Linked DNA regions of Homo sapiens: regions 1, 2 and 3 are each linked to region 4. The links come from fine-mapping of genetic effects on gene expression. A gene starts in region 4. Each other region holds a variant in brackets. All regions are shown on one strand. Distances are from middle to middle.

Evidence for each region. PIP is the estimated chance that this variant, and not a neighbour inherited with it, causes the effect.
Region 1: its variant is fine-mapped to the expression of FBP1 in whole blood (TOPMed, PIP above 0.99).
Region 2: its variant is fine-mapped to the expression of FBP1 in whole blood (INTERVAL, PIP 0.98).
Region 3: its variant is fine-mapped to the expression of FBP1 in whole blood (TOPMed, PIP above 0.99).

What each region holds. Positions count from the first base shown.
Region 1 is chr9:94,665,887-94,673,914 of GRCh38, reverse strand. No RefSeq gene overlaps it. Among named protein-coding and RNA genes, the nearest start is that of FBP1, 30 kb to the right of the region's middle. RefSeq lists a silencer at 4,394-4,688 and an enhancer at 4,676-4,815. The variant A/C (reference allele first, on the strand shown) is at 4,040.
Region 2 is chr9:94,589,297-94,597,324 of GRCh38, reverse strand. It overlaps FBP2 (fructose-bisphosphatase 2), which reads left to right and starts at 3,501. Exons shown (of 7, transcript NM_003837.4): 1 at 3,501-3,768. The coding sequence starts at 3,599. RefSeq lists an enhancer at 5,492-6,034. The variant T/C (reference allele first, on the strand shown) is at 4,412.
Region 3 is chr9:94,578,360-94,586,387 of GRCh38, reverse strand. It overlaps FBP2 (fructose-bisphosphatase 2), which reads left to right. Exons shown (of 7, transcript NM_003837.4): 3 at 1,719-1,811. Among named protein-coding and RNA genes, the nearest start is that of FBP2, 11 kb to the left of the region's middle. The variant C/T (reference allele first, on the strand shown) is at 3,441.
Region 4 is chr9:94,636,026-94,644,053 of GRCh38, reverse strand. It overlaps FBP1 (fructose-bisphosphatase 1), which reads left to right and starts at 4,536. Exons shown (of 7, transcript NM_000507.4): 1 at 4,536-4,913. The coding sequence starts at 4,744. RefSeq lists a silencer at 4,403-4,462.

The sequences.
Region 1 (8,028 bases), 30 kb before region 4:
AGGTCAGGAGTTCGAGACCAGCCTGGCCAATATGGTGAAACCCCATCTCTATTAAAAATACAAAAATTAGCCAGGTGTGGTGGCATGCGCCTGTAATCCCAGCTACTTGGGAAGCTGAAGTAGGAGAATCACTTGAACCTGGGAGGCGGAGGTTGCAGTGAGCCGAGATCGTGCCATTGCACTCCAGCCTGGGTGACAAAGTTAGACTCTGCCTCAAAACAAAACAAGACAAGACAAAACAAAACAAAACTCAACTTTTATTTTAAGTTCAGAGATACAAGTGCAGGTTTGTTACGTAGGTTAACTCGTATTATGGGGGTTGGTCACACAGATTATTTCATCACCCAGGTATTAAGCCCAGTAACCAATAGTTCTCTTTTCTGCTCCTCCCTCTCCTCCCACCCTCCACCCTCAAGTAGACTTCAGTGTCTGTTGTTTCCATCTTTGTGTCCATAAGTTCTCATTATTTAGCTCCTACTTCTAAGTGAGAACATGCAGTATTTGGTTTTCTGTTCCTGTGTTAATTTGCAAAGGATAATGGCCTCCAGCTCTATCCATGTTCCCGCAAGACATGACCTCGTTCTTTTTTATGGCTGCATTCTTAAACATTTTATCACCCCAAGGAGAAATTCCATACCCATTAGCTGTAATTTCATTCCTTCTGCCCTCAGCCCTTGGCAACTATTAATCTACTTTCTGTCTCTATGGATTTGTCTATTTTTGATATTTTATATAAATGGTATCATACAATACATGGCTGTTAGCCTAACATAGTGTTGTCAAGCTTTCTCCATATTGTAACATTTCTTTTTATTGATGAATAGTATTCCATTTGTTCAGCCATTCATGGACATTTGTGTTGTTTCCACTCCTTGGCTATTTAGAATAATGCTTCAATGAACATTTTTGTATAAGTTTTTGAGTGGACACATGTTTTCAGTTCTCTGGGGTATATACCTAGGAGTGGAATTACTAGGCCATATGGTCACTCTGTTTAACTTTTTGAGGAACTGCCAGACTGTTTTCCAAAGCAGCTGTACCATTTTATATATCCACCAGCAGTGTATGAGGTTTCCAATTTTCTCCACATCCTTGCTAACACTTATTATTGTCTGTCTTTTAAAATTATGGTTATCCTACTAGGTAGGAAGTAGTATCTCATTGTAGTTCTGATTTTCATTCCCCTAATGGCTCATGATGTTGAATATCTTTCCTTGTGCTTACTGGCCATTGTATATTCTCCTTGCAGAAATATCTACTCAAATTCTTTGCTCATTTTTATTGCCCTTTTATTGTTTAGTGGAGTTCTTCATATATTCTAGAAACAAGTTATTTATCAGATATATGATTTACAAATATTTTCTCCCATTCTGTGTATTTTTTTCACTTTTTATTAGTGTTCTTTGCCACACGAAATGTTTAATTTTTTTTTTTTTGAGACAGAGTCTTGCTCTGTTGCCCAGGCTGGAGTGCAGTGGCACGATCTTGGCTCACTGCAACCTCTGCCTCCCAAGTTCAAGCAATTTTCCTGCCTCAGCCTCCCAAGTAGCTGGGATTACAGGCGTGTGCCACCACACCTGGCTAATTTTTGTATTTTTAGTAGAGACAGGGTTTCACCATGTTGACCAGGCTGGTCTTGAACTCCTGACCTCAGGTGATCCACCCGCCTTGGCTTCCCAAAGTGCTAGGATTACAGGCGTGAGCCACCATACCTGGCCAAAATTTTAAAATTTTGATGAAGTTCAATTTGTTTATTTTTAATTGCTAGTGCTTTTGGTGCCACAGCTAAGACACTATTGCCTAAGTTAAAGTCACAAAGATTCACATCTGTATTTTTCTCTAAGAGTTTTATAGTTTTAGCTCTAAATGTAATTTAGGTCTTTGATACATTTTGAATTTTTTTTTGTATGTGGTGTGAGGTGGGGGGTTCAACTTTTTTATTTTGCATATGGATGTGTGTGGTTTCCCCAGCATCCTTACTTTAAAAGACTCTTCTTTCCTCATTGAATTGTCTTATCACCATTGTTGAAAATCAATTAATCCTGAAAGTAATGGTTTATTTCTGGACTCTCAATTTTATTCCATTTATCACTATGTCTATCCTTACAATAGCACCACATCATCTTGATTACTATAGCTTTGGAGTGGAAATGTGAGTCTTTCTACTTTGTTCTTTTTCAGGCCTGTTTTGTGTATTCTGGGTCTCTTGCATTTCCATATGAATTTTAAGATCAACTTTTCAACTTCTGCATAGAAAGCAGGTAGGCTTTTGTTAGGGATTATGTTGACTAATTTGAGGAGGATTATCATCTTAATGATGTTATCCTCCAATCTATGAACATGGCATGTCTTTCTATTTAATTCTTCTTTAGTTTCTTCCAAAAATATTATATAGTTTTCAGTAAACAAGACTCACACTTTTGATTTTTTCTTCTTTTTTGAGACGGAGTCTCACTCTGTCGCCCAGGCTGGAGTGCAGTAGTGCGATCTCGGCTCACTGCAAACTCCACCTTCCGGGTTCACGCCATTCTCCAGCCTCAGCCTCCTGAGTAGCTGGGACTACAGGTGCCCGCCACCACGCTTGGCTAATATTTTTCCTTTTGAAATGGAGTCTCGCTCTGTCGCCCAGGCTGGAGTGCAGTGGCGCGATCTCGGCTCACTGCAAGCTCTGCCTCCCAGGTTCACGCCATTCTCCTGCCTCAGCCTCCCAAGTAGCTGGGACTACAGGCGTCCGCCACCGCGCCTGGCTAATTTTTTTTGTATTTTTGGTAGAGACGGGGTTTCACCGTGGTCTCGACCTCCTGACCTTGTGATCTGCCCGCCTCGTCCTCCCAAAGTGCTGGGATTACAGGCGTTAGCCACCATGCCCGGCCATTGGCTAATTTTTTGTATTTTCAGTAGAGATGGGGTTTCACTGTGTTAACCAGGAGGGTCTTGATCTCCTGACCTCGTTATCCGCCTGCCTCGGCCACCTAAAGTGCTGGGAGTACAGGTGTGAGCCACCATGCCCGGCCAAGACTCACATTTCTTTTGTTAAATTTATTCAATATCTCATTCTTTTGGATGTTATTGTTAATTGAATTGGATTGTTTTCTTAATTTCTTTCCTTTTTTGTTTTCTTTGTTTTTTTTTGGTGAGACGGAGATTTACTCTTGTTGCCCAGGCTGCAGTGCAATGGCGCGATCTCGGCTCACCACATCCTCCGCCTCCCAGGTTCAAGCGATTTCCTGCCTCAGCCTCCTGAGTAGCTGGGATTACAGGCATGTGTCACCATGCCCGGCTGATTTTGTATTTTTAGTAGAGATGGGGTTTCACCGTGTTGCCCAGGCTGATCTCGAACTCCTGACTTCAGCTGATCCGCCCGCCTCAGCCTCCCAAAGTGCTGGGATTACAGGCGTGAACCACCGCGCCCAGCCCCCCATCTCTACTAAAAAATACAAAAAATTAGCTGGGCATGGTGGCAGGCGCCTGTAATCCCAGCTACTCCAGAGGCTGAGGCAGGGGAATCGCTTGAACCCGGGAGTCGGCGGTTGCAGTGCGCCGAGATCGCACCACTGCACTCCAGCCTGGGCGACAGAGCTAGACTCTGCCTCAAAAAAAAAAAAAAAAAAAAAAAATTAGACACAACTCCAGGAAAGCAGGGAAGATCCCAAACTGACTACTAACATGATTCCATGGCTTGGCAGAAGAGAAGCTTAAGAGAAAATTGTTAAAAAAAAAATAAAACCAGAACAATTAGTCAAGAAAAAGAAATAAAGGGAACCCAGATTGGTAAGGAAGAAGCAAAATTCTTTGCATCTGCAGATGACATGGTTTTGTATATAGAAAATCCAAAGAACACACAAAGACAAACCAAAAAAACCTATTAGAGCTAGTAACAAGTACAAGTTTGCAGGATACAGGATCAATATACAAAAACCAATTACATTTCTATTGGAGTAGAGACGAGATTGCACCACTGCACTCCAGCCTGGGCAACAGAGCGAGACTCTTGTCTCCAAAAAAAAAAAAAAAAAAAAAGCACTTTGGGAGGCCGAGG[A/C]GGGCAGATCACAAAGTTAGGAGATCGAGACCATCCTGGCTAACACAGTGAAACCCCGTCTCTACTGAAAATACAAAAACAAAAACAAAAAAATTAGCCGGGCGAGGTGGCGGGCGCCTGTAGTCCCAGCTACTCGGGAGGCTGACGCGGGAGAATGGCGTGAGCCCGGGGGGCGGAGCTTGCAGTGAGCCGAGACTGCGGCACTGCACCCTAGCCTGGGCGACAGAGAGAGACTCCATCTCAAAAAAAAAAAAAAAAAAAAAAGGAAAAAGAAAAAAAAAGTGACAGAAAAAACGCTCTCTGCAGAGGAGAGAGGATTCCGAGTGGATTGCGGGGTTACAGCTGAGTTCAAAAGCTTTTATCAGAAACTCTTATCTCTAGCAGTTTGAGTCACTTCTCTTATCAGTAAAGCTGTCTGTGCAATTCCCCTTCTGTTACGCAGCCGTGGGTATGTCTCTAGGCCATCACGAATTCTGCTTTTCTAGTTTGTATTAACTGTGGGTTTGTTTTAGGTAAGCCCCCTCCCCATCTGTGCAAGTTTCCACCGTATATATGCCTGAAAAAAGGGAAGAAACTTTTTTCCTGGGAGCTCACTAAGTTGCTTATCTGTGCGCAGGTGCAGCCTGAGGTTTTTTGTTTTTTTTTTTCCCCAAGGTTGTTTCATTTTTGCCTGTTGCTGTAACTTTTCAGGCAGGTTGCTTCTGCAGTCTGCATTTTCCCCAACTGATTTTTTCCTTTCCTTCTTCTCACAGTGGCTCTCATCTGGGGTGACTTTGCCTCCCTGGGGATGTTTGGCAATAATATCTGGAGACATTTTGGTTCTCACAACTGGAGGGCCGTGGATGCTACTGGCACCTAGTGGTAGAGCCCAGGGAAGCTGCTAAACATCCTGCACTGAACAGGACATCCCCACAACAAATGAATTATTAGGTCTAACGTCAATAGGGTGGAGGTTGAGAAATCCTGCTATAAATCTCGTTTAAATCCGTGAGGATGTGGGCTTTTGAAATAATAATAAATAATTTTAATTTGATTTTCTGTGGTTATATTGCCATCCCTGGGACATGGAGGCAGAAGGTCTATTTGATTAGGGAAGGGCAGGGAGCAGGAGAAAATATCAAAGAGCATCTCAGTCGAGTACCACACAGCAATGAAAATGAATGAGCCATAGACACACACACCACACAACAACCAGATAACCTTGAACAAAAGAATATACAGCATGCGTTCATGTACATAAAGTTCAAAAACAGGCACAACTACTTTACTGAGGAGATTATAGCTGGACAGTAACACTACCAAGAAAAGCAAGGATATTATTGCCATAAAAGTCAGGGTAATGATTACCTCTGGGTGGCGAGTCAGAAAAAGGATACCAGGAGACTGGCATCATTCCATTCCTTGAACTTTTCATTTTCCTTTAAATAGTGCATTTTGTTTTATGAACTTCTACGTATGTTTCACAATTAAAATATAAAAAAAGGGGGACATTAGTTAACATTCAAAAATCTCATCCTCCTAAAACAGAAAGAGTCCCTAAGTGGAAAAACAGGTGAATTACTTTTCTTTTTTTTCTTTTTTCTTTTTTTTTGAGACAGAGTTTAGCTCTTTCCCCTAGGCTGGAGTGAAGTGGTGCCATCTCGGCTCACTGCAAACTCTGCCCCCTGTGTTCAAGTGATTCTCAAGCCTCAGCCTCCTGAGTACCTGGGATTACAGGCACCCACCACCACGCCGGGATAATTTTGTATTTTTAGTAGAGACAGGGTTTCTCCATGTTGGTCAGGCTGGTCTCAAACTCCCGACCTCAAGTGATCCACCTGCCTCAGCCTCCCAAAGTGCTGGGATTATAGGTGTGAGCCACTACGCCCAGCCAAACAAGTAAATTTCAAACGAAGTCTGGGGTTTAGTTAAGTCATGTACCAGTCGTAATCTCCTAGTTTTGACACATGTACTACGGTGATGTAAGATGTTCACAACTGGGGAAACCGGGACGGGGGGAAGGGTCTCTCTAAATTATCTTTGCAGTGTAGACCTAAAATTCGTTCAAAATTAAAAGTTTCTTTAAAAACAAGTCTCTAACACATTTCTAAATGTTTCCCTCTAACCTTTGGTCTTTTTCTCAGCTTTCAGTTTATCAACTTTTGATGATACGAGTAACAACGCTGGGAATAACAGCAGCTAATGCTTAAAGCAAGGCTAGCCCCACAGGCTGTGCTTCTGCTGTTGCTATTATGGAGGATTGGGGAAGTGCAGCAAAGTCTGAAGAAACAGAAAAAACAGCTACTCAGATGCAGTCACTATTTCACTGAGGCATGTTGCCGTCCTCTTTTGGTTTCTCTGTACATTTTAATTTGGCTTACACCATTTTGTAACCTGATTTTAAAAAAACTCTAAACATCGCCGGGCGCGGTGGCTCATGCCTGTAATCCCAGCACTTTGGAAGGCCGAGGCGGGCGGATCACGAGGTCAGGAGATCGAGACCATCCTGGCTGACACGGTGAAACGCCGTCTCTACTAAAAATACCAAAAATTAGCCAGGCGTGGTGGCGGTTGCCTGTAGTCCCAGCTACTCGGGAGGCTGAGGCAGGAGAATGGCGTGGACCCGGGAGGCGGAGCTTGCAGTGAGCTGAGATCACACCACTGTACTCCAGCCTGGGCGACAGACTGAGACTCCGTCTCAAAAAAAAAAAAAAAAAAAAAAAAAAGAAAGAAAGTAAATAATTAGACCAAGGTAGGAGGACAGAACATTTTTCTTTTTGTTTCTCCCACTTGACCATCTGAGGATTCTGTGCGTTCTCATTTTGGCAAAATTCAACAGGATATGGTATTGGCTCAATGTTACTCCTGCCTCGGGCAGCAGAGATGTATATGGCACCAACTCAGCAGCCAGCAGGAAAAGCCGTCTGCCCCACCTCACTCCTGCACAATCGCTCCTGGGGACATCACTACAGTACTGCCCGTGTTCAGTGTCCAGCTGAGAAGCACATCAGAGCCCACTCTGTCTGTTCAATGATCCTGTTTATTTGACCCTTATGACAAAAAGCGTGGAGGGGGCAAAATTCTGTCGCCCACAGCAAAATGTGGCATTTCCCTGGACATTGGAGTCTAGAACTTGGTAATTTAAGTTTGATTTATTTAATTTTGAATGTCACCCAGACACCCACATTGGTACAAACGTCATGGCAGGGTCAAGGGTCCCAGGTTGTTCAACAGCCACATCATCAGCTTTTTGCAAGAGCGGCTGACAACAACAGCGATTTCCCCATATGCAGGCTCAGGTCCGGCCCGACGGGGCTCCAGAGGCCTTACCTGCATCTGAACCTTGTGCCCTAAATTGAGCACCACACATTTCACAGCCCAGAAATCAGCTGATTCAGCTTTGTTGGAGTCTCTGGACTCGACCTTTCTCCTATAATCTCTAAGCTTGTTTTTAATAAATGTTTAACTTCTTGATTAATTTCAGTGATTTCTGAGGGTCATTTTTCACAGCTCAGATAATGAGTTCTAAATGCTTGCTGGGCTGTCCGCTCACTCAAAACTGTAAACGCTTCAGGTTGCTTTTTGTCTCCCTAATACTCTCCCTTATACTCTCCCTTATGTGGGAATGAAATTCAGTCTTTATTCTTTCTGCCATCTGCATAATTGCCAGCGTTTAAAGATGCTTGCTTCTCTCTTTCATAGCCACTGGGAAAAAAGTGTTTGTTCGACCTTCACTAAATTCGTATTTTTCTGGTGTCTTATGCTTATTTCTTGAAAAGTGGCATATAATTAATTCTTAAATGTTGATTTTTTCACTATACTGCCTTTTCTTCAGCAATTTACCTGTTTTTCATTTTCTTCCTCCCCATCCACTTATCCCAGGGAGAAAACTTTTCATCCACATCTTTATTCCATTTGCTTTTTAAAAAGCTTTCTGGTTCTTTGGAAGAAGCAAATGTGATCTGCTGCCCTAGAACCCAAGTGGTCTCCTTTGTCATTTTGTTTGAGCT
Region 2 (8,028 bases), 47 kb after region 4:
ATTGTTCTGAATGATGAAGGCAACCACTTTTCATTTGGATTCAGAAACACTTGGAAGCAGTGATAATATGTCTTTTCTTTTCTTCTTCTTCTTTTTTTTTTTTTTGAGATGGAGTCTCACTCTGTTGTCCAGGCTGGAGTGCAATGGTGCGATCTCGGCTCGCTGCAACCTTCGCCTCCCAGGTTCAAGCAATTCTCCTGCCTCAGCCTCCTAAGGAGCTAGGACTACAGGTGCACACCACCATGCCCAGCTAGTTTTTTGTATTTTTAGTAGAGATGGAGTTTCTCCACGTTAGCCAGTATGGTCTCGATCTCCTGACCTCGTGATCCGCCTGCCTTGGCCTCCCAAAGTGCTGGGATTACAGGTGTGAGTCACTGCACCTGGCCGAAAATGTGTGTTTTTAAAACTAAGTGAAGATAATACAGTTAGGGATCATGAAGTCTAATCCCATTTTTTTTTTTTTTTTGAGACAGACTCTCAATGTCACCCAGGCTGCAGTGCAGTGGTGCCATCTTGGCTCACGGCAACCTCTGCCTCCCAGGTTCAAGTGATCCTCCCACCTCAGCCTCCTGAGTAGCTGGGACTACAGGTGCACGCCACTACACTGGCTAATTTTTGTATTTTTTTTATAGAGATGGGGTTTCACCATGTTGGCCAGGCTGGTCTTGAACTCCTGGGCTCAAGTGATCCCCCTGCCTTGGCCTCCCAAAGTGCTGGGATTACAGGTGTGAGCCACTGTGCTCAGCTGGATCTCATTTTTAAATTGAGGCATCTGAGTCCCGGAGGGCTTTGATTCCCGGCCCAGGCTTCTTTCCTTTGGGTATAGATTTAGCAATACTCTGGTCTGACCCAGGCAGATGTTCTTGTTTTATTATACATAGCGATCTCTCTTGTTAGAACTCAATTCTAAGCTCATGTCTTATTCTATGTTCTAATTGTGTTAACAGGCATATGTGCATTGTCGTGTATGGTGCTCAGTCATCTAGGGAGGAGGAGCATCCTAGAATGGGAGAAAGTATCATATAAGAGAAAGAACGCTAACCTCAGGTAGCTCTGGGCTGAGATTCTAGCTAGTAGCTGTGTTATCCCTAGGAAGCCCTAGTTTCCTCATCTGTAAAAATAGCACTACTGGATCAAATAATTGGGTGGATTAATGTGTGCCACATACTGAGATAGAGGTGTCATCTGTCTCCATCTATCCATTCACCTCAGTGTTGAAAGTTGAAATAGATTGAATGAAAATCACAAAAAGGGTATGGGATCCTGTATTTGTTCTATTAAGAGGTAGCATATTTCTTGGTAAGTGAAGATAGACCCCCCCACACCCCCGCGAAAAGAATTAGAACATTGTCACATAGCAGTTCCTCTTCTGGGGTTGTATCTTACTGAAGCACTTGCCCCAATATAAGGATGTTTGTTGCATTACTATTTGAGGAGCCAACTTACCTAAATTATCTGAATGTCCGCAAGCTGGAATGATCCAAGCCTCTGTGTGCTGACTTGGACATCTTCCCATAATATTTGCTTTCTGGAACTAAAAACATATATAAATAACATATATATATATTTGGGATCTTAAACCTGCATATTAAGATCTACTGGTAGATGTTAGTTTTATCTGAAAGTTTCCACATAAATTGTGAGCACCAATGCCCATCTCAACCATTTGGTTGCCCTCCTCAACCAGTTTGGTTGATCCAATGCCAGCGCCCAGCTCCCACTGCAGGCATCACCACACGACCCTGATCTGGCAGACGCTGTGCACAGGGACGTCTACGGGGGTGGGAGGATGGGTTCCAGGGAAACTGTTCTTTCTTAATAAAAAGGAACTGATGTGGTTGGAGCTGCCCTTGCTCCCCTCTTTGCATCTTCAACGTGGGCCAGATGTTCAGAACTGCAGTGACATTTTGTGCCCCCAGGATGCCAAGCAAGGGGCACAATCCAGCCGACCAAGGATGACAGAGACGAGACAGAGAGGGGTCCCAGTGGAACCAAGAACAGCTGAATGAACACCAGCCACCACCTCCTAGTGCACTCCTGGTCTATGAGGAAATAAACCCCCACGTGTAAATTGCTCTAGTTGTTCTATTTCTTGCAGCTGAACACATTCTAATCGACATAACTGTCAGGGGAAAAGACCTTCAGAGAAATGTGCATGTTGTACTGTTTTGTGAAATGAGATTATGTATGATTGCACAATAGTTGTGAGCACATTGAAAGACTGGAAGGGCGGCTGGGCGTGATGGCTCACGCCTGTAATCCCAGCACTTTGGGAGGCCGAGGCGGGCGGATCACGAGGTCAGGAAATCGAGACCATCCTGGCTAACACGGTGAAACCCCGTCTCTACTAAAAATACAAAAAATTAGCCAAGCGTCGTGGCAGGCGCCTGTAGTCCCAGCTACTCGGGAGGCTGAGGCAGGAGAATAGCGTGAACCTGGAAGGCGGAGCTTGCAGTGAGCCGAGATCACGCCACTGCACTCCAGCCTGGGCGACAGAGTGAGACTCCATCTCAAAAAAAAAAAAAAAAAAAAAAAAAAAAACTGGAAGGGCAATAATAGGTAACAAAGTACTGAGCACCTACTATACTAGGTACATCTCATTGCAGCCACTCTATAAGATGGATGCTTCACGGTTATGCTCATTTAAGAGTGAGACAACTGAGGTTCCAAGGGGTTTAATAACTTTCTCAAATCATGCAACCAACAGATAGCTAGCTTGGGACTCACAGCCAGGTCTGGCTGGCCCTAGAGAAAGTGCTTCCACCACCATATGCACCCCACCAGTGCCTACTGGCTGCACAGACCGCCACCAGCCCTAGCAGCAGTGATTTCTGGAGAGTGGGATGGGAGAATGGGCTGGTGGTGAGGAGGTTTGTCTTTATCCACTTCTTTAGTGTTTCCTTTTTAACAAGCAATTTTTGTTACAAAAGTGGACATCCAGAGATATTGACAAAATAACACTGGTGCCAGGAACTGTGCTAGGAATATAATAGTTTTCTTCCGGATCTGGATCTCTACTGTGGATATCCACTGGTCATACATGCCTACTGGAAATAAAAAGCATTCTTTCCTAACTTATTCCAAACCCTGGCTAAAGGAATTCTGGGGTTGCCATTATGTTACTATGTGACCTACGTCCCAGATAAGGAACCTGCGAATCTGCCACCTCCGCCCTCGGGAGAGCCAGGCCCTGCAGTCACTATATGTGAAGAATCCTTTGGAGCCTGGAATAAGAGGGTTTTATGCATCATTTTTTAATCAACTGGATTTCTCACCTCCCACCTGTGCCTAAATGGTGGCTTCTTGGTATCTTGAAAGGGGGTGCTCAGCAGGAGAAAGCAGCTCCATGTTTCTGGGCAGCCCGTCCTATTTACAGACTGCTGCGGCTCCCTGGCAGCTGCCACAGTCCCCGAGGCCAGAGGGAGTTCCTTGAGGGCCCCAGCAGTTGTTTGAGTCATGTGTTTTGGGCCCTTTTCCTTAGAGATCCTGGCAGGGCCAGCACAGATTTCTTATCGGCTTCCACACTGCGGAGCTGCAGCCCTCAGAAGTAAGCAAGGTTTCCTGCCGGGAGAAAAGGATTTGAAGCATTCCAGCCAAAATGACGGACAGAAGCCCCTTCGAAACCGACATGCTCACCCTGACCCGCTACGTTATGGAAAAGGGGCGTCAGGCCAAAGGGACTGGGGAGCTCACCCAGCTGCTGAACTCAATGCTGACGGCCATCAAAGCCATCTCCTCGGCTGTGCGCAAGGCCGGTCTGGCCCACCTGTGAGTCCTGGGGAGCAGGCATGGGGCACAGAGCACCCCAGGCCCAGGCAGGGGTGTGGGAGCTGCAGGTGCTTTGGCAAGAAACTGGGTCCAAAGCTTATTGGCCCTGTGTGCCCTAGATGGAAGCTGCATTTCAAGTTCCTATCATGTGTGCTTTGATAAAGGGGCCTTTGACTTGTTTTGAGAAAGGAACGAAAACATGCTATGAAGAAATACACATATAATTTTTCCAGTTATTATAATGATACCAAGTGCAGTGGCTTGTTGCATTAAAATATGTATTGTGTTATCATGACTTGTACTTGCACAGAGAGAGTCTCACTGGAACAAAGAAGTAGAGGGGTGACGTGAAATATCTCTTTATGCCTCTTGCAGACATGAGTGTTTTATTGTAATAAGCTTTGCAAATATGTTAGGAGCTGGAAATTATGTACGACATAGGAAGCTTGGTAGAGCCCCTTCCTGCATCTGCTCTCTCATCATCTAAAGGAGTGTTTTGCTGGCTACGTGTTTTATTTCTTCTCTGTGACTCTTTCTTTATCTTCACCTCCACTTGGTGTGCAGGAAGCCGGGAGGTGCTAGTCCTGGGAGGGGAGCGCAGAGGTTTCTTCCACAGGGTTCTCTTTGGTGCTTTATCCGAGCA[T/C]AGATGAGGCCAGGTTCACATTACACTGCTGATGGTCACAGCCCAGTGTCCAGTTTAAGTCTGTAATAAAAAGAATCCGGTGGCCAGGCACGGTGGCTCCTGTCTGTAATCCTGGCACTTTGGGAGGCCAAGGTGGGTGGATCATGAGGTCAAGAGATCAAGACCATCCTGGCCAACATGTTGAAACCCTGTCTCTACTAAAAATACAAAAATTAGTTGGGTGTGGTGGCGGGCGCCTGTAGTCCCGGCTACTCGGGAGGCTGAGGCAGGAGAATCGCTTGAACCTGGGAGATGGAGGTTGCGGTGAGTCGAGATCGTACCACTGCACTCCAGCCTGGGTGACAGGACGAGATTCCATCTCAAAACATACAAACAAACAAACAAAACCCCAGCTTTCTTTGGGCTTCCCTTGTAGTAATTCCAGGGGAGGTCCTCTCAGGAGCTGAAGGAACACATATTTTGGGGATGAAAGAGACTCAAAATGAGGAGCTAACAAAGTCCAATCATTTAAAATATTTACTCTGAGCAATTAAGTGCTTTTAACACAAAAAGTGATAGCATTAGATTACAAGATGTAATTATCATTTGATCACCACAGACTGTATTTATTTAGGGGTGGTGACCCAGTAGCAGGACCCAGGTTAACGGTGCATTATCCTTGCTTTTTTCCTGTGGGTGGATGCTTCAGCTCTGTTTTTACCTCATTTGGCAATAACAGCCACGCTCTGCATTTAATCGCCTTCCAGAATGTGAGGGCAGGCGGTGCCCTGTTCTGCTCCTGTGGGTGACAGCCCTGCTGAGTGACGGTAGACAGGGACTTTGCCTCTCCCTGTGCGGACCCTGCTATCCTCAATGCGGTTGCCTGAGTCCATCTCAGGGTGATTCATCCACATAAATTGGGCTCCCCCTCTGTGCAGGGCTCTTGGCTAGGCAGTGGCTGCCATGGTAGGGGTCTTGCTTATCTGCTGCAAAACTCTGACTTTATGGCGGTTGAGCAAGGAGACAAAGTGGCCCTAGGAACTGGATAATTGAGGTGCTTATTAATTTGGCATTTCCTACCGTGTGATAATGGGCGTGATTTACTCTTGCTAGGACCTTAGATTCCCTTTGTGAAATGGAGAGTATAGTAGCATCCCTAACTCTTAGGGTTGTTGCAGAGTTAGCGAGCGCATGTGATGACGATTTCAACTGTGCCGGCCCCGTAAGACACGCACAGTGCCTGTCACTACCGCGGTTCCAAGCCCAGACCAGATTTGCCTGTGCCTGAGCCGTCAATGACCACTGGCGGCATTTGAGGAGCCTTTCAGCCCCCCACTGCACTGTGGGAGCCACTTTCTGGGCTGGCCAAGGCTGGAGCCCACTCCCTCAGCTTTCAGGGAGGTGTGGAGGGAGAGGTGCGAGCGGGAACTGGGGCTGCGTGCGGCGCTTGCGGGCCAGCTGGAGTTCCGGGTGGGCGTGGGCTTGGCGGGCCCGCACTCCGAGCAGCCAGCCAGCCCTGCTGGCCCCCGGCAATGGGGGACTTAGCACCCGGGCCAGTGGCTGCGGAGGGTGTACTGAGTCCCCCAGCAGTGCTGGCCCACTGGCGCTGCGCTCGATTTCTCGCTGGGCCTTAGGTGCCTTCCCGCGGGGCAGGGCTCGGGACCTGCAGCCCGCCATGCCTGAGCCTCCCATCCACTCCATGGGCTCCTGTGCGGCCCGAGCCTCCCCGACGAGCGCCACCCCCCGCTCCACAGCGCTCAGTCCCATCGACCACCCAAGGGCTGAGGAATGCGCGCGCACGGCGCAGGACTGGCAGGCAGCTCCACCTGCAGCCCCGGTGCGGGATCCACTAGGTGAAGCCAGCTGGGCTCCTGAGTCTGGTGGGGACGTGGAGAGTCTTTATATCTAGCTCAGGGATTGTAAATACACCAATCAGCACCCTGTGTTTAGCTCAAGGTTTGTGAGTGCACCAATCGACACTCTGTATCTAGCTGCTCTGGTGGGGCCTTGGAGAACCTGTGTGTGGAAACTCTGTATCTAACTAATCTGATGGGGACGTGGAGAACCTTTGTATGTAGCTCAGGGATTGTAAACGCACCAATCAGCGCCCTGACAAAACAGGCCACTCGGCTCTACCAATCAGCAGGATGTGGGTGGGCCAGATAAGAGAATAAAAGCAGGCTGCCTAAACCAGCATCGGCAACCCGTTTGGGTCTCTTTCCACACTGTGGAGGCTTTGTTCTTTCGCTCTTGCTGCTGCTCACTCTTTGGGTCCACGCTGCTTTTATGATCTGTAACACTCACCGCGAAGATCTGCAGCTTCACTTCTGAGCCCAGTGAGACCACGAGCCCACTGGGAGGAACGAACAACTCCAGATGCGCCACCTTAAGAGCTGTAACACTCACCGCGAGGGTCCGCGGCTTCATTCTTGAAGTCAGTGAGACCAAGAACCTACCAATTCCGGACACACCACCACCCAGGCAGGGGACCGCAAGCCCCTGGCTCCTTTTGGGGAGATCTTTCTAGCAAGGGCTCCGTGAATGCAATTTAAAAGTTATGAGAGTCTCCTTTTCCCCTTCTCTTTCCTCTTCTTATGGTGGGAACAAGAGAGGCTGGAGTGCCCGCCTGGAGCCTCTCCTTGGCTTTCTCATGGCCGTGGGGGATCATTCCTTTAGAGACTGTTAGTTAGCTTTAGTGTCAGTCAGAACACTGCAAGATACTGTCCTACGGGCTAGAGAGCCCCTTTCCCCCATCATCTCAGGTGAAGCTATTGCCGGGAACTCACATCTCCTGGTGAGTTTCCATTCTTTCTAGGAGGAGGGGTGCTGCCCAGTGCCTGGAGAGAGGGTGCAGGGGGTCGGCTGAGGGGTGGGGTTAGGCGGATGAGGGGGCATTTGCAAAGCGCAGGACAGAGGCTGTTTCTCAGCTCTGCCCACCGCAGGCCTGGGCCTGCTGTTCATCCTCCAGTGGCAAGCGCATTCAGATTCCATATCGAACCAAGGCCTGTGTTTGTGGTCCCCTGAAACTCAGATGCAGTCAGCCTAGTTTTGTTGCTGCTGTTGCTTGCTTGCTTTTGTCTTGACCAGGAGGCACAGTCTTTGGGGTGAGGCTGCTAGGAGTGTTTTCCAAGACAGCTGACTGCTCACGTCATGGTTCCTCAGACACCAAATGATGTGCTGTGGGTGGGGGTTGGTGTTGGGGGGTGAGGTGGGGGTGCTGTTCAGGGAAGAGGGTGGGAAATGAGTTTGCCCCCAGCTTAAGGTAGATCAGTGGTTCTCAACCCTGGCTACCTGTTAGAACCACCTGAGATTTCCTTCAACAAATAAATAGCATTCACATCAGTAGGCAAAGGAAATTCCTTTCTTGCCATCCTTTCCTCATAACTCAGTGAGCAGACATGGAGCATGGGCTGTGTGTCTGGGCACTGCAGAAACAGACAGAAGGATGGATCCTGCCCTCTGCAAGCAGGTCATGCAGCAGGAAGCCAGTCCGTGAGTGTGGTGAACACTGAGGAGGGATGATGGGGTGTTTCTGGTGTGTGGGGCCCACTTGAGAGGACCAGGGAGGCGTCCCAGAGAGGAAAAGGAGGAATAGCAGGAAGAAAGCCGGGCAGAGAGCACTGCTGTGGTGGGAACAC
Region 3 (8,028 bases), 58 kb after region 4:
TTTTTGAGACGGAGTCTTGCTCTACTGCCCGGCTGGACAGGCTGGAGTGCAATGGCGCAATCTCAGCTCACTGTAACCTCTGCCTCCCGGGTTCAAGCAATTCTCCCGCCTCAGCCTCCTGAGTAGCTGGGATTACAGGCATGCGCCACCATGCCCCGCTAATTTTTGTGTTTTTAGTAGAGACGGGGTTTCGCCATGTTGGCCAGGCTGGTCTTGAACTCTGACCTCAGGTGATCCACCCGCCTCAGGCTCCCAAAGTGCTGGGATTACAGGCGTGAGCCACCATGCCTGGCCCGTGGCAGCTCTTGAATACTCCAAACCTGCTGATCTCTCTGTCGAAAATTCTTCTTTCTAGGATGGGCGCGGTGGCTCACGCCTGCAATCCCGGTGCTTTGGGAGGCTGAGGTGGGAGGATTGCTTGAGCTCAGGAGTTTGAGACCAGCCTAGGCAACATAAAGATACAAAAGATAAAAATTTAGCTCGGCATGGTGGTGTGCACCTGTAGTCCCAGCTACTCGGGAGTCTGAGGTGGGAGAATTGCTTGAGCTCAGGAGTTTGAGACCAGCCTAGGCAACATAAAGATACAAAAGATAAAAATTTAGCTCGGCATGGTGGTGTGCACCTGTAGTCCCAGCTACTTGGGAGTCTGAGGTGGGAGGATTGCTTGAGCCCAGGATCTCTAGGCTGCAGCGAGCTCTGACCACACCACTGCACTCCATCCTGGGCAACAGAGTGAGACTCTGTCAAAACAAAACAAAAACAAGAAAACAAACAATTTTGCTTTCTAGGTCTCTGTGTGTTTCTTCATTCCTTAATTCTAGTCAGGTCTGTCATCAAATGTGACCCCCCCTCATGGCTCTCCAGCCCCCAGCCTATGTGGGTTTTCGTTAGGGCACGTGCCACAGCCTGCTTGTATGTGTCCTGACCTGTGTGCTCTCTGTCTGTTCTCCCACTGGAATGTCAGTGCCATGAAATCCAGCCTTGCTGCCGGGATCGCTGACCCCCCGGAAACAAACCCCAGGGCCTTGAACACTTACTTCCCAGCATATGCTGGAAGCTCAACATGTATCTGCTGAATGCATGCATGCATGAATGAATGGGCTAAATTGGATTTTTTTTTAAAAAATTGGATTATTATAGAGATGTTGGGGAATTTCCAAGTTTACAAATTATCTAACTTTTCTACTCTGGCTGAGCAAGGAAAAAAAACAGAAACAAAGCTCAAATGAAGCTAGGCCAATACTCATTGGAAAGTCAGGGAAAACTAAATCAAGTGGAGGGAGAAATGACCCTCATTTCTCTTGAAGTTGCATTACCCGTGTTTAATTGGCCTGGGGGTTCCGGTCGCCATCACTAAGGGTCTCTCGTGACCTTGCACACAGGGGGCTATAAAAAGGACCTGGGGCTTCCCTTGGTGGCTTGAGCTGCCTGTGACAGCAGAGTGGGTGGGTGTGGGGGACGTTGGTCTCTCAAGACACACCCACTTTATCTTCTGGTCTTCGCATCAGACAGGTGAGATGGATACAAAACCCAGAGGAGTATTTGTGTATAAACTGGCACCCTGCCCTCCGTAAGTCATGGTGTTTTTTGATAAAGATATGCTGTGGTTCTCAATCTCTTTTTGATGTGGTGTACTCTGCCACGCACAGCCCTGACACAGAGCAATTGTGCTAATGGGAAGATGTGCTGATCAGTTGGTGCTTTCCTCTCTGATTTAGGGGAAATACGTGGTCTGCTTTGACCCACTGGATGGATCTTCCAATATTGACTGCCTGGCCTCCATCGGAACCATCTTTGCCATCTATAGAAAGGTGAGTAGACAGGCTGACATTTTACACCTCCTTCCTGTGGTGGTCTCTGGAAGGTTCCTGGGCTGAAAACCGTGTGTTTGGAGTCCTACCCTTTGTCTTCCCACTAACGAGAAAAGCCACTGTAGGCAAACCACCAACTTTTCTCTGCCTGGGGCTCCTCATTAGAAGAACTGGATTGGCGATTCTTTCTCTGCCTACTTTCTGGCATTCCTGGGAGGGTAACACAGAAGGACAGCTGAGATCTTGTTTTGAAAGTCTGGGTGCAACACAAATGTCAGACATGGCATTAGGTTCCAGGTGGCATTCTGAATCTCTGACATCCTCTCCCCCTCTTGCCTCATCTCTCCTGTCCCCAGCCACAGAAAGTTTTCTGCTAACGCTCATTGGATTAGATTGAACTAATCTAACCTGGAAGGTCCACGGTGATCTCCCTATTTGAAATCTGAACCCCTGAGTACACCTGAAAAGTCTTTGTTGCCATGTAATGCTGGGTATTCACAGATCCTGGGGACTGGCATATCTTTTGGGCCATTCTGCCTACCCTGAAATCCTAGCAACAGAGAGCTGGGTGGGTTTGTGACATCCAGCAGGACTAGAAACTTCACAATTCAGAAAACTTGTCCTTCATTCTATATAAAGTGTACAACGGCAATAAAATCCATAGCAACCTCGCCAGCTGCGGTGGCTCACGCCTGTAATCCCAGAACTTTGGGAGGCTGAGGCGGGCGGATCACTTGAGGCCTTGAGGCTAGGTGGTCGAGACCAGTCTGGGAAACATGGTGAAACCCCGTCTCTACTAAAAATACAAAAATTAGCCAGGGTGATGGTGCACGCCTGTAATTCCAGCTACTCAGGAGGCTGAGGCAAGAGAATTGCTTGAACCCAGGAAGTGCAGGTTGCAGTGAGCTGAGATCATGCCACTGCACTCCAGCCTGGGTGACAGAGCAAGACTCTCTCAAACAAACAATCCATAGCAACCAAAGAGAAAAATAAGCAGAGTGCCAGTTACATTGTATTTGAGAGTCTTCTATGTATTAGGAAGTTGATTAAACCGTGCTCTTACAGAGTCTTGAGATAGGGAATCTATGGCAGAAATATGAGTATTTAAGGCCTGTATAGTTTGGGTTATATTGTGAGAATAATCTGGTAGATATCTAATTCTCAGCCTTAATTCATGCACAAGTGTTGCCTTGGGTTGTAGTTAGGATATCTAAAGCCATATGATTTAAAGACATTGTGGGATTAAGACATAGTAGCAGTTTGCTTTTCTGTGTCTTGTGGGGCTGAGGGTATGTTTTGGGCATTATTCAGGAAGTATGTACAGCACTTAGTTTTACTTATACTTCATGGTCCCCACTGTCAATTATATTTGGGGTTCCTGTGGGGCTTGACAACAGGTTGGCAAAATATACATATTTAACAGGCTGGGCATGGTGGCTCATGCCTGTAATCCCAGCATTTTGGGAGGCTGAGGTGGGTGGATCACCTGAGGTCAGGAGTTTGAGACCAGCCTGGCCAACATGGTGAAACTCCATCTCTACTAAAAATACCAAAAATTAGCTGGGCATAGTGGCGGGCGCCTATAATCCCTGCTACTCAGGAGGCTGAGACAGGAGAATTGCTTGAACC[C/T]GGGGGCAGAGGTTGCAGTGAGCTGAGATTGCGCCATTGCACTCCAGCCTGGGCAACAAGAGTGAAACTGTGTCTCAAAAAAAAAAAAAAAAAAAAAGGGGGCTGGGAAGGGTGGCTCATGCCTGTAATCCCAGCAATTTGGGAGGCCGAGGCGGGCGAATCACGAGGTCAGGAGATCGAGACCATCCTGGCTAACATGGTGAAACCCTGCCTCTACTAAAAATACAAAAAAATTAGCCGGGCGTGGTGGTGGGTGCCTGTAGTCCCAGCTACTTGGGAGGCTGAGGCAGGAGAATGGCGTGAACCCAGGAGGCAGAGCTTGTAGTGAGCCAAGATCGCGCCACTGCACTCTAGCCTGGGTGACAGAGCGAGACTCCGTCTCAAAAAAAAAAAAAAAAAATTAGCCAAGAGTGGTGGCATGTGACTGTGGTCCCAGCTACTCGGCTGAGACATGAGAATTGCTTGAACCTGGAGGTGGAAGTTATAGTGAGTTGAGATTGCACTGCTGCACTCCAGCCTGGGCAACAGAGCAAGACTCCCTCTCAAAACAAACAAACTATACACACACACACACACACACACACACACACACACACGCACACACACACATATTTAACAGATTATAGGAGGAGCTATGAATATTTATGAAGATGGTCCTGACATATGTGTATTGAATAAATATGCATGTATGACCCATGTTTATTTTGGGGTGGAATGTATTCCATTTAGGTCCTGTATATCAAAAGATCTTTCTAGGACATAAAGGCACACAGTGTGTGCTTTCTGTAAACTGGCCAGACCTAGCCCATGGTTGGTGGTCTTTTATCAGGAGAGCTACTGAAATTTAGTCTTTTGTCTAATTAAAGCTGTAGTCTTGGCTGGTGGAACAAGAGCCTGGGGGTGAGTTAGTCAGCTGATCTTAAGGCCAGCGCTTGTTTGGCTGCTAGAGAAAAAGAAAAACCTATGGCAGTTAGGACATGGTTTCCTCTTCAAAATAGGAGTGAGTGACTAACCCTTGCCTGGCGTGGCCTTAGGTCCCGTTTCTAATTGGGTATTTTATTGTGACAAACAGCCTATTTTGTCAATCTTAGGGTTTTCAGTTGTGCCTAATTCCAAAAAGTGGGGGAAGGTATAGGGAGGCCTGTCTGATCCCGCTTCCTGCCATGGCCTGAACTTGTTTTTCAGTTTATCTGGGGATTTCCTTCGGCCAAGAGGCAGGTCCATTCAGTCTGTTGAGAGGCTTAGGATTTTATTTTAGTTTATATTCTCCCTTTTTTGTCAAGGTATTCCGGGGGCAGTATTGATGGCCAAGCTTTTATTTTGTCCCATGTGGATGCTGGGGTGGTATGGTTACCTTCCCAGGGTCCATGATGTTCCTCGATGGGACCCCTATGGCCCAGGGACTTAGAGTCAAAACAGTGGAAGCCAGTTAAATGTTCCAGGCCAGATGGGAATGGAGGTGGCCAGGCATTCATTAACCTTAAAACCCCTTTTAAGCAATGTAAAAGCCAAAAACCCAAAGCCAAAAGGCAAGCTTCCAAAATTGACTTATCTACAAATCTATACATCGAGCTACTGTGAGCTTGGCTAGTAGCACTTAGCTGCACAAAACACAAGCCTTTTGTTCAGCTGTTGAAGCCTCTCTGTGTCCGTCCTGGATTTGGAGGCTCTGAATTAATTTGATCCCATAAGACTGGCCCTTACTATGTCAGACGCTCACTTCTTCCACTATAGTCTTTAGGCCTGGGGGATTGAATAGTTTCAATTCTGGAGGTAAAACAAAATACAAAGAATTAGTAATGTTTTAAAGTATCATAAGCCCAGCCTAGTTCTGAGAATGACAGGAAAGGAGGCTTATAGGTAGTTAAGCATTTTAATTATTTGGTATTAAGGCATAGAATAAATCATATTACTTTAGACAGAGGCAAAATTAATAAATTAATCTTACTGGTTTTGACTACAAGGCTGTCCTTGTGTCTCATTAAAGCAGGTGACTTTGATTGTCACCTTTGCCTGGATCCAGAGACAAGGCTTTGGTTAGCTTGAGTTTGGTATCAGATACTGGCAGGAGCCAATGCCTTCTTTAGATGAAATATGTGCACCCAGGAGTCAAAGCCCTGTAACTTAACTGCACAAGGATTTGTTAATAGTACCTGATAAGGGCCTTTTTTAGGGACTAGAGGTAGTGATACTAGAGACTTTGACCTGTCTGGAACCTGTAAAATGATTTTAAAACCTAGTGGTGATTAATTTTTATAGCTTTGGTAAACCCCAGCAGAAAGTCAGAAACTTAATTTAGGATTCAATTTTGAAAAAGTTAAAGATGTTAAAAGGCTCAAAACAATTGATTAAAACAGAACTGTAGGTCATTGTTAAACAATAGTTGCTCATTTAACCAGAGTGATAATTGAAAGATTGAAAAGGCAATCCAGGCTGGGCATGGTGGCTCACACCTGTAATCCCATCACTTTGGGAGGCTGAGGCAGGTGGATCACTTGAGGCCAGGAGTTCAAGACCAGCCTGGCCAACATGGCTAAACACTGTCTCTGCTAAAAATACAAAAATTAGCTGGGCGTGTTGGACCAGCCACTTGAGAGGCTGAGGCATGAGAATCACTTGAACCTAGGAGGCGGTGATTGCAGTGAGCTGAGATTGTGCCACTGTACTGCAGCCTGAGCAACAGAGCAAGATTCTGTCTCAAACAAACAAACAAATAAAAGGCAATACAGAACGTTATATGGTTGTACAAACTTTAACCCTTTTAGATCTCAACTTTTCTAAGCAATTAAAACCTAATAAAGACAACATAGGAATTATTTTGATAAAATGTAAAATGTTGTTTCTTAAGTGAATTACCAGACAGGGAAAGAAAAACCTGCAGTGTAGCTGCTTCTCTTTAGGGGAAGCCTATTTGGATAACCTGGAAGTCAAACTGTGAGTGTATCAGGGAAATAGATAATTCTCAGTAACTGCATGAGAAGCTTTCTAATCATATTGACAAATTTAGACATATCAAGGAAAGTACAGAATCAAGTAATAATGTAGGAAAACATTGCTTTTCTAGACCTTTAAGATAAAATGTTTTAGTGCCAGGCCATAATAATAAAATTGGAGGAAAAAGATCACAAGAGTTGAGGAAAAAGCTGAATGAGAGAGTTATCCTCTCAGGCCTTCTCAAGGGGAGAAAAAGCTGAAAGCAGCAAGACACAGCAAAGCCAAACTTCTGAGATATGATTCTGAGAAGTTTTTAAGAGAAAGAGGTTATAAAAGTAAAATTTCTTGTTATTAGGAGCAAATAAATACCTTAAGACAGACAACCTTGCTTTAAACATAGGGGGCTATTATAAAGAATCCCCTTTTAATTATAGGTAACTTAATCACATGCAAAATTCTTTTATAAATTCTCCACAAACTTTAATACAATTTATACAAACCATTTATGACATGCTTAAACTTTTTGACTTGTCCTGAATTTTGTTTCTTTAGATATCAGTCATTATTTTTAGGACAAGAATTTACCATACAACTTTTTTTTTTTTTTTTTTTTTTTGAGACAGAGTCTCACTCTGTCGCCCAGGCTGGAGTGCGGTGGCATAATCTCGGCTCACTGCAAGCTCCGCCTACTGGGTTCACACCATTCTCCTGCCTCAGCCTCCTGAGTAGCTGGGACTACAGGCGCCCGGCACCACGCCCGGCTAATTTTGTGTATTTTTAGTAGAGACGGGGTTTCACCATGTTAGCCAGGATGGTCTCCATCTCCTGACCTCGTTATCTGCCCGCCTTGGCCTCCCAAAATGCTGGGATTACAGGCATAAGCCACCGTGCCTGGCCAAGTTTTTTTTTTAATATATAAAATTATTCTCTCTTTTAAAATAACCTTTTTTTTTTTTTTTTTTTGACAGAGTCTCTCTCTGTTGCCCAGGCTGGAGTGCAGTGGTGCAAGCTCCGCTCACTGCAAGCTCCGCCTTCCGGGTTCACGCCATTCTCCTGCCTCAGCCTCCTGAGTAGCTGGGACTACAGGTGCCCGCCACCACACCCAGCTAATTTTTTGTATTTTTAGTAGAGACTGGGTTTCACCGTGTTAGCCAGGATGGTCTCGATCTCCTGACCTTGTGATCCGCCTGCCTCAGCCTTCCAAAGTGCTGGGATTACAGGCCTGAGCCACCACGTCCAGCCTATAAAATTATTTTTACAATACGAATACAATTCATAGAATTATATAGTCATTAGAATTTTTATTTCTACTAACTTTAAATTTTAGTGGAAACTTAGTAAGCAAGAAGTCCTGAACGGTTTGTCAGATGTTAGCATTTTATAGATGAAGTCATTTCACAATTTTAGAACCATGTTTTCCCATATTTTATTGTAAATTAGTCCCATAATTTATTATAATTTTTAAAAAATTAGAAGTAAACCAGACATCCAATAAGCATTTATTATTTAATTTAAAATAATTTTAAGATTTTAAATTACAGAAAAAATTCACTTAAAAAACATATTTCATTTATGTGTATTTAATTTTTTAATCTTTAAGTTTATCTAGATTCTTTCTGAAAACAGATATTATACAAAGTTAGTCATTATTTAA
Region 4 (8,028 bases):
AGCCACCCCAGAGTGGTTCTGGATTGATTAAAGGCTGCTTCTGAAGCCCTGGGCAAGTGCCACACCCTTAGCAAGTGCTAAATAGATGTTTGCTGTTTAGTTTCCACACCAGGCCCCCGGGGCCACAGGAGCTGGGGGAGGTGTTTAAGGAAGGACCATGCTACTGCAATCCCTCTCACATACACCACTTGGCTTTTGTTTTTCTTTTTGTGTTTTTGTTAGAGACACACTCTCACTCTATTGCCTAGGCTGGAGTGCAGTGCTGTGATCACGGCTCACCGCAGCCTCGACCTCTTGGGCTCAAGTGATCCTCCTCCTTCAGCCTCTCCAGTAGCTGAGACTACAGGCATGCGCCACCACTCCTGGGTAATTTTTAAATTTTTTTAGAGACAGTGTTTTCCTTATGTTGTCCAGGCCGCTTTTAAAATTCCTGGGCTCAAGTGGTCTGTCTGCCTCGGCAACCCAGAGCATTGGGATTACAGGTGTGTGCACTGTGCCTGGCCTGTTTTTCTTTCCTGTGGCACTAACCGCCCCCACAGAGGGGAAAGTAAGCAGTGGAGCCCTGGGTTGAGGGCGGCTGTTGTAGGGGCAGGGACTGTCCACACTGTTACTTCTCCACTGCCCGCCTCCAACATAACCCCATCGTGGGAGCTGGGTGAGGAAATGCATGAGCACTGATTCTTCGCAGGATTTCGAGTGTTACACATGTGGTAATACTGCTCACATCACTTGAATCTGCAATCCCATGTGAAGTTGGAGTATGTGGCAAGAAGCAACTCTGCGAGGGTGGTGGGTGGAGGAGGGAGGGGCCCAACCCACAGGCCAGGAACCCATGTGAGGTGGCCGCCTTCCTCTGTCTCTTGCTAATACCTGGGTGATGGGCTTTATGCATCTTGACCCAGAAAAGAGCGAGTCACAATCGACCAATATGATGGAGGGGATATCACTGCACACCAGGCAAATACAGGCTCAGCTGCCAATTCCCACATCCCTCTAGCCCCTTTTGATGGCCAGGGAACTTTCTTGCTTCTGTTCACATGAAAACAACAGTTGGCCCTACCCATGTAACGAAGCAAACACTTACATACTGTGTACTTACTACATGCTGGGCACTGTTCTTAAACACTACCAGCACTGCCTGTATAATTCTCCCAGCAACCCTATGAGGTGGCTACAATCATTAGCCCCAGTTTACAGATGAGCCAATGGTTGCTTGGTGAGGTTTAGCCAATTGCACAGGCTTGCACAGCCAGTAAGTGGCCAGGCCAGGGTTTGGACCCAAGCCATGCAGCCCCAGAGTCTGTGCACTTCACCACAATGCGACGTGGCCTAGTCCCAAGGGGAATGGCTTGCCTTGTAGGCAATGAGCTGCCCATCATCGTGGGTGACAAGCAGAAGTGACTGAGCTAGACAGGGGTCTCCTCCACGTATTCAGTGTGTCCCCTGTGTGTAGCTCTGAGCTAAGCACTCTGCCAATGCCATCTCATTTCAGCCCGATGACACCACTGCCAGATGGAACCATTATTCCACTATATGGATGAACAAACTGGGTTTACAGAGATTAGGTAACTGGTCCGAGATCTCTGGCTGCTGAGGGCTGGAGCTGGGACTCAAACAAGTTTGCTTAATGCAGATCCCAAGCTCTTCACCTCTTATCAGGGATGGTGTCCAATGAGGGTTGGCTGGACTAGATGACTTTTACGGTCCTAGCCAATCCAAGATCCTGAGGGACTGAGAGTCTGGCAAGTAAAGGGGCACACTCCCCTAGTTACTAGCTCTAGCTCTCCCCTAGTAACTAGTTACTATGCCAAAAATACTAGTCATCACATTTCAGTTCTTTTTTTTTTTTTTGAGATTGAATCTCGCTCTGTTGCCCAGGCTGGAGTGCAGCGGCAGGATCTTGACTCACTGCAACTTCTGTCTCCCGGGTTCAAGCGATTCTCCTGCCTCAGCCTCCTGAGTAGCTGGAATTACAGGTGCACACCACCATGCCCGGCTAATTTTTTATTTTAGTAGAGATGGGTTTCACCATGTTGGCCAGGCTGGTCTTGAACTCCTGACCTCAAGATCTGCCCGCCTCAGCCTCCAGTTTGTTTGTTTTTCTTTTTTTTTTTTTTTTTTGAGATGGAGTTTTGTTCTTGATGCCCAGGCTGGACTGCAATGGTGCCATCTCTGCTCACTGCAATCTCCGCCTCCCAGGTTCAAGCGATTCTCCTGCCTCAGCCTCCTGAGTAGCTGGAATTACAGGCATGCACCACCATGCCCAGCTAATTTTTGTACTTTTAGTAGAGACGGGGTTTCTCCATGTTGGTCAGGCTGGTCTCGAGCTCCCAACCTCAGGTGATCTGCCCGCCTCGGCCTCCCAAAGTGAAGTGCTGGGATTACAGGTGTGAGCCAGTGAGCCGGGCCTATTTGAGTTTTTATGTTTAAGGATGTATTTCTCTTACTATTTTTTTTAACACAGGGTTTTTCCTGAAAAGTTGCCTGAGGAACAAAGAGTTAAATAAGACCCTTAAAGGATCAACTCTCTTTGCCAGGCATCTAAGTCCCCTCTGGGGCTTTGAGGAGACAGTCGCTGTCTTTCCTGGTGGTACCACCACCTTCCTTCATTCAACGCCGCCGCATCTGACAACCCTGGGCACAGGAATCTGCACCCCAGGTCTCCACGGTGAATCCAGCAGTCAATTTTCAGAGCTTGTCCTGCCTGCCCCATCCACACCGCTTGGCACATGGGTCAGCCCGCCTTTACTTACCTTCTTCATCTGGCTTCCCGGATGTCACATCTCTTGGTTTTTGGTTGGTTTTTCCAGTTGGCTTTTCCAATTTATACCTGCAGCATGGATCTCTCCTCTGAACTCCAGATACATAAATCTGTCTATTTGACATTGCCTTGGATGTCTAGAAGGCATTTCAAACTTAGCAGGTCCCACACTTAGCTCCTAATTGTCAGTCCTGCCTCCAGCACACGCCCCTCTCGGTGTTCCCCATCGCAGTCGAGGACAACTGCATTCTTCTAGTTTCTCAGGCCTCAAACCTTAGAATCATCCGAGACTCCTGTCTCTCACATATCTCATCTGTCAACGAATCCCATCAGCTCTACCTTCAAAATATGTCCAGAATCCACCACCTCCACTGCTAACACCTGGCTCACTATCTCCTAGTAACCTGGAGGGCACTGTCTTCAGTCTGATCTTCACACAGTAGCCGCAGTATGAAGACACAGGGTAGACCATGCCTCTCTTCTTCTCCAAACTCTCCAGTGGGTTCCTCCTAGTCAAAGTCAAACCTCACTTGGCCCTCTAGACCTCACCTCTGCATCCTCCCGCTGGCCTTATCTCCTCCACCTCTGACCCTTGCTAGCTCTATTTCAGCTCCACCGGTCTCCTGGCCATTCCCTGAACCTGAAACATGGTCTCCTACCCCAGGGCCTGTGCACTGGCTCTCCCGGTGAGGAAACCGCTCTCCTTCCCATCTCCACCGGCGCGTTGCATCCTTCACCTCTTTGCTCACATATCCCTTTCTCAGAGAAGCTTTTACTGAGGCCTCTGCTCACCCTCTTCTCCCCTCCACATTCCGTGTCTTCCTTTTCTATTTCGTTTCTCTCTATGGTACTTATGGCTTATGTAACAAACTAATCTATTGTTTATATATTTATTTTTACTGTTTCTCTGTGAAAACGTACACTCGAAAAGGGCAGGAGTTTTGTCTGTTTGGATCAGGCTCCACCCCTGGAAGGTAGGACAGTGTTCAGCACAGCAGGTGCTCAATAGGTGTTGTTTCGTGAATCAGCACATCAATTGCAGCATTGTGGCTACCAGGGGGTCAGGATGCGGGCGGTGGAGCCCTCTGGCCTTTGTGTGGTAGCCGAGGACTCTGTGTCAGCGACCGTTTTCCGGGAAACTTCCGGGCGAGACTCACATCTTGGAAATTCAAATACTCAATAGCTCTCGAATTCTAGGAATCTTGAGAAGAGGCCTGGATTAAGGATTCAGACGTGGGCCCTCAGATGGGTGAGAAACGGGGACTCTGTGTCTCCTAGCGGGGACAGAAGGGCCAGGTGACAGGCCAGGCAGAGTGGACGGGGCTTGGGCAGGGGGCGGGGGCAGGCAGCCACACGGGGCAGGAGCTGCAGAGCTAAAGCCAGGCCATGTGGACTGGCTGCGGGTTTCGCTGCCTAGCTGGTGGCATTGAGCAAGTTACTTAACCTTTCTGAACTTCCGTTTTATGATTTTGGAGGAAACAGTCATAGCTTTCTCTCTGGCAGAGTCCGATGGCCCGAGTCCCGCTCCACAGTGCGGGTGGAGGGCACGGAGGGGTGTGTGTGGGGGGCGACAGCCCAGGAAGACTAGGGGGCGGCAGGGCGCGTGGGGGCGGGGGTTGGGAGACCGCAGGGAGGATCCCCGACCTTGTCTGAAGATCCAAGCAGGCGGAGCCGCGGTCTGGTCCGCGGGGTAGGCGGGGCGCAAGAGTGTTCCCGGGGGCGGGGGGCCGACCCGCGTCTAAAGGTTTCCGCGATTCACCCGCCGGCGCCTGGCCTGGCCCAGTTGCACCACGAGCGCTGCGGACACTCGGGGCGGCAGTCGGTCTGTCAGTCCTCCCGCCAGGTCCCGCGGCCCGCACCTGCCGCCCGCACCTGCAGCTCCGCACCTGCGGCCAGTGCCTACTGCCCTCTCTTGCCGCCCGCACCTGCAGCCCCGCACCTGCCGCTTGCACCTGCAGCCCCGCGCTCTACCCGGTTCAAGCATGGCTGACCAGGCGCCCTTCGACACGGACGTCAACACCCTGACCCGCTTCGTCATGGAGGAGGGCAGGAAGGCCCGCGGCACGGGCGAGTTGACCCAGCTGCTCAACTCGCTCTGCACAGCAGTCAAAGCCATCTCTTCGGCGGTGCGCAAGGCGGGCATCGCGCACCTGTGAGTCGGGCCTTGGGCGGTGGGCCCCGTCCTGTCTGTCTGCCTGGGGAGCCTGCCCGGCGGGCTGACGTTGGGCCCTCTGAGCCTCCTGCCGTCAGCCTCTGTCTGTCCGTCTGATGTCTGAGCGCCTCTCTCGCTCTCTGTCTGGTAGCCCCTCTCTCCAGAAGCTGGCTCAGCCTCACTCAAGTCCTCATCTCCTCCCTTGACCTTGGAGGGGCCCACCTGGGGGTCCGTCTCACAGGTGTACACCTGATTCCATCTTGCATTCCTCTTCTCTGCCCTGAGCAGCCTGCCTCGTACCCCTCTCAGCCGGCCAAGTGTGGGCACCTGGCCTGCCCGTCATACCCGCCCTAGCCTCAGACAGGAAAGTGCTAGCTCAGGTGCCTTCCTTCCCCATTTCTTCTTTGTCCTCCTTCACTCTTTCTGCAATTAGGGACCCAAGTCAGGTTTCTAATCCAGTTATCTCTGACCTGAAACAAGACCTGTTAGGAGCGAGTGTCCCCCCCGCCCCCCCCGCAAGCAGGCTGGGAGGTCTCCTGTGTGTCCAGAGCCTTTAGGAGCAGCAGGGCTTGTGTGCAAAGGAGCTCCCGTGGGCTGCCCCTTGCTGGGACAGTTGCCATGCTGTGCCAGAAACAGGAAACACCCAGGGCTTCAAAACCCCTATCGATTTGCAATGATGGTGTGTGCAGCCTCTGCCCAATTAGTGGAAAGCTCAAAAGTGGTTTGTAGAATGGTTCTGAATGCGCTATGGAGTGCATCTCGAACGTCACTGGGCACAGGAATCATTTGGGGATCTTGGTAAGATGTGTGCCCTCCTTCCATAGCTCTGGGACAGGTCCTGAGATTCTGCATTTCTAAGAAGTTCTCCTGTGGTGGGTGCTGCCCATCAGATACTGTTTGTCTACTCATCACATTGTGAGTAGCAAGGGGTCAAGTGGAGTGGAGACTCAAAGGACCCCTTCTTGTGAGGTTTTTTGTAAGTCACACAACATCCTTTCGTTTGTGTTGGTGTGCACAGGTATTTTCTTTTTCTTTTCTTTTTTTTTTTTTTTTTGAGATGGAATTTTGCTCTTGTTGCCCAGGCTGGAGTGCAATGGTGCGATCTTGGCTCACCGCAACCTCTGCCTCCCAGGTTCAAGCGATTCTCCTGCCTCAGTCTCCCGAGTAGCTGGGATTACAGGCATGTGCCACCATGCCCAGCTAATTTTGTAATTTTTTTTAGTAGAAACGGGGTTTCTCCATGTTGGTCAGGCTGGTCTCGAACTCCCGACCTCCGGTGATGCCTTGGCCTCCCAAAGTGCTGGGATTACAGGCATGAGCCGCCGTGCGCAGGTATTTTCTAGCTAACTGATCCACACTTTTAACTGAAGTGTAACTGGGTTTTCAGATTGTCCATACACTTTACTAACATTCCCCGCACTTATGCACACTATAAAAATGACACATGATGGGCTGGGCGCGTAGGCTCTAGCCTGTCATCCCAGCACTTTGGGAGGCCGAAACAGGTGGATTGCCTGAGGTCAGGAGTTCAAGACCAACCTGATCAACATGGTGAAACCCCGTCTCTACCAAAAATTAGCTGGGTGTGGTGGCAGGCGCCTGTAATCCCAGCTACTCGGGAGGCTGAGGAAGGAGAATTGCTTGAACCCAGGAGGCAGAGGTTGCAGTGAGCCGAGATCGCATCATTGCACTCCAGCCTGCGCGACAAGAGCGTGACTTTGTCTTAAAAAAAAAAAAAAAAGACGCATGATGCTCAGAGCTGACCTGAACAAATACAACCCTGCTACTTGGGTTTGGAATGCATTTCTCCATTCTTAAAAACTCTTCTCCGCCCCGCATCCTGCAATCTAGATTCCTTTTCTTACTGGCAGGCTGTCTGGCTTTGGTCCCACAGTATGGACTGGTGGAGGTAATTCATGTAAAGGAGTGGTATGATCACATTTATTTTTGAATATTAAGCAGACATGTTAAGGAAGGTGATGACTCCATTACTGTTGCCTCTGGCCCCTCTTAATAATACATTCCTAAGGATTCTTATTTTAGAAACATACCCAGGTGAAATCTTAAGCTTTAATTTACAGCTAGTATAGGTGGCTCACAGCTTTAACTGCCTTTGAGGACCAGGGATATATTTTAAAAAGAGGGCTTGTCGACTGGGTGTGGTGGCTCACACCTGTAATCCCAGCACTTTGGGAGGCTGAGACGGGTAGATCACTCAAAGTCCAGGTGTTTGAGACCAGCCTGGCCAACATGGTGAAACCCTGTCTCTACTAAAAACACAAAAATTAGCCAGGCATGGTGGCAGGCGCCTGTAATCCCAGCTACTTGGGAGGCTGAGGCAGGAGAATTGCTTGAACCCGGGAGGCGGAGGTTGCAGTGAGCCCAGATCGTGCCACTCTACTCCAGCCTGGCGACCGAGTAAGACTCTGTCTCAAAAAAAGAAAAAAAAGGGCTTGTCATGTCTGATATTGTTTAAAAAATGTGTCAGTACCTTTCACACCCCTAGAGAGACTGAGAAATGTAAGATGTGTTTTGAGGTGTCCCACTGTCTAAGTAACCTTAGACAGTGGGACCTTGGATAGTGAGATTTTGATGGTGGGGCCTGGATGAAGCATGTTAATTTTGGCTACGTAAGGTATGCGTTTTATTTATTTATTTATTTTGAGATAGAGTCGCACTCTGTTGCCCAGGCTGGAGTGCAGTGGTGTGATAATGGCTCACTGCAGCCTCAACCTCCCAGGCTGAATTGGTGCTCCCACCTCAGCCTCCCCTGTAGCTGGGACTACAGGCATGTGCCACCATGCCGGATAATTTTTGTGTTTTTGTAGAGATGGGGTTTTGTTATGTTGCCCAGGCTGGTCTCAAATTCCTGGGCTCAAGCGATCTGCCCACCTTGGCCTCCCAAAATGCTGGGATTACAGGTATGAGCCACTGTGCCTGGCCAATATGTGTACTTTTATACTAGATAGTTGTGAATACCAGGTTTTAAAGAAATACTATGTTGCACTCATTGACAAAAATTTAAACCATTCAAAAGAATTCAAGGGAAGAGTGAAACCCACCCCATATATATCCCATGGGGTATCCACTGCAAATAATTTACTGCTTATTTTTC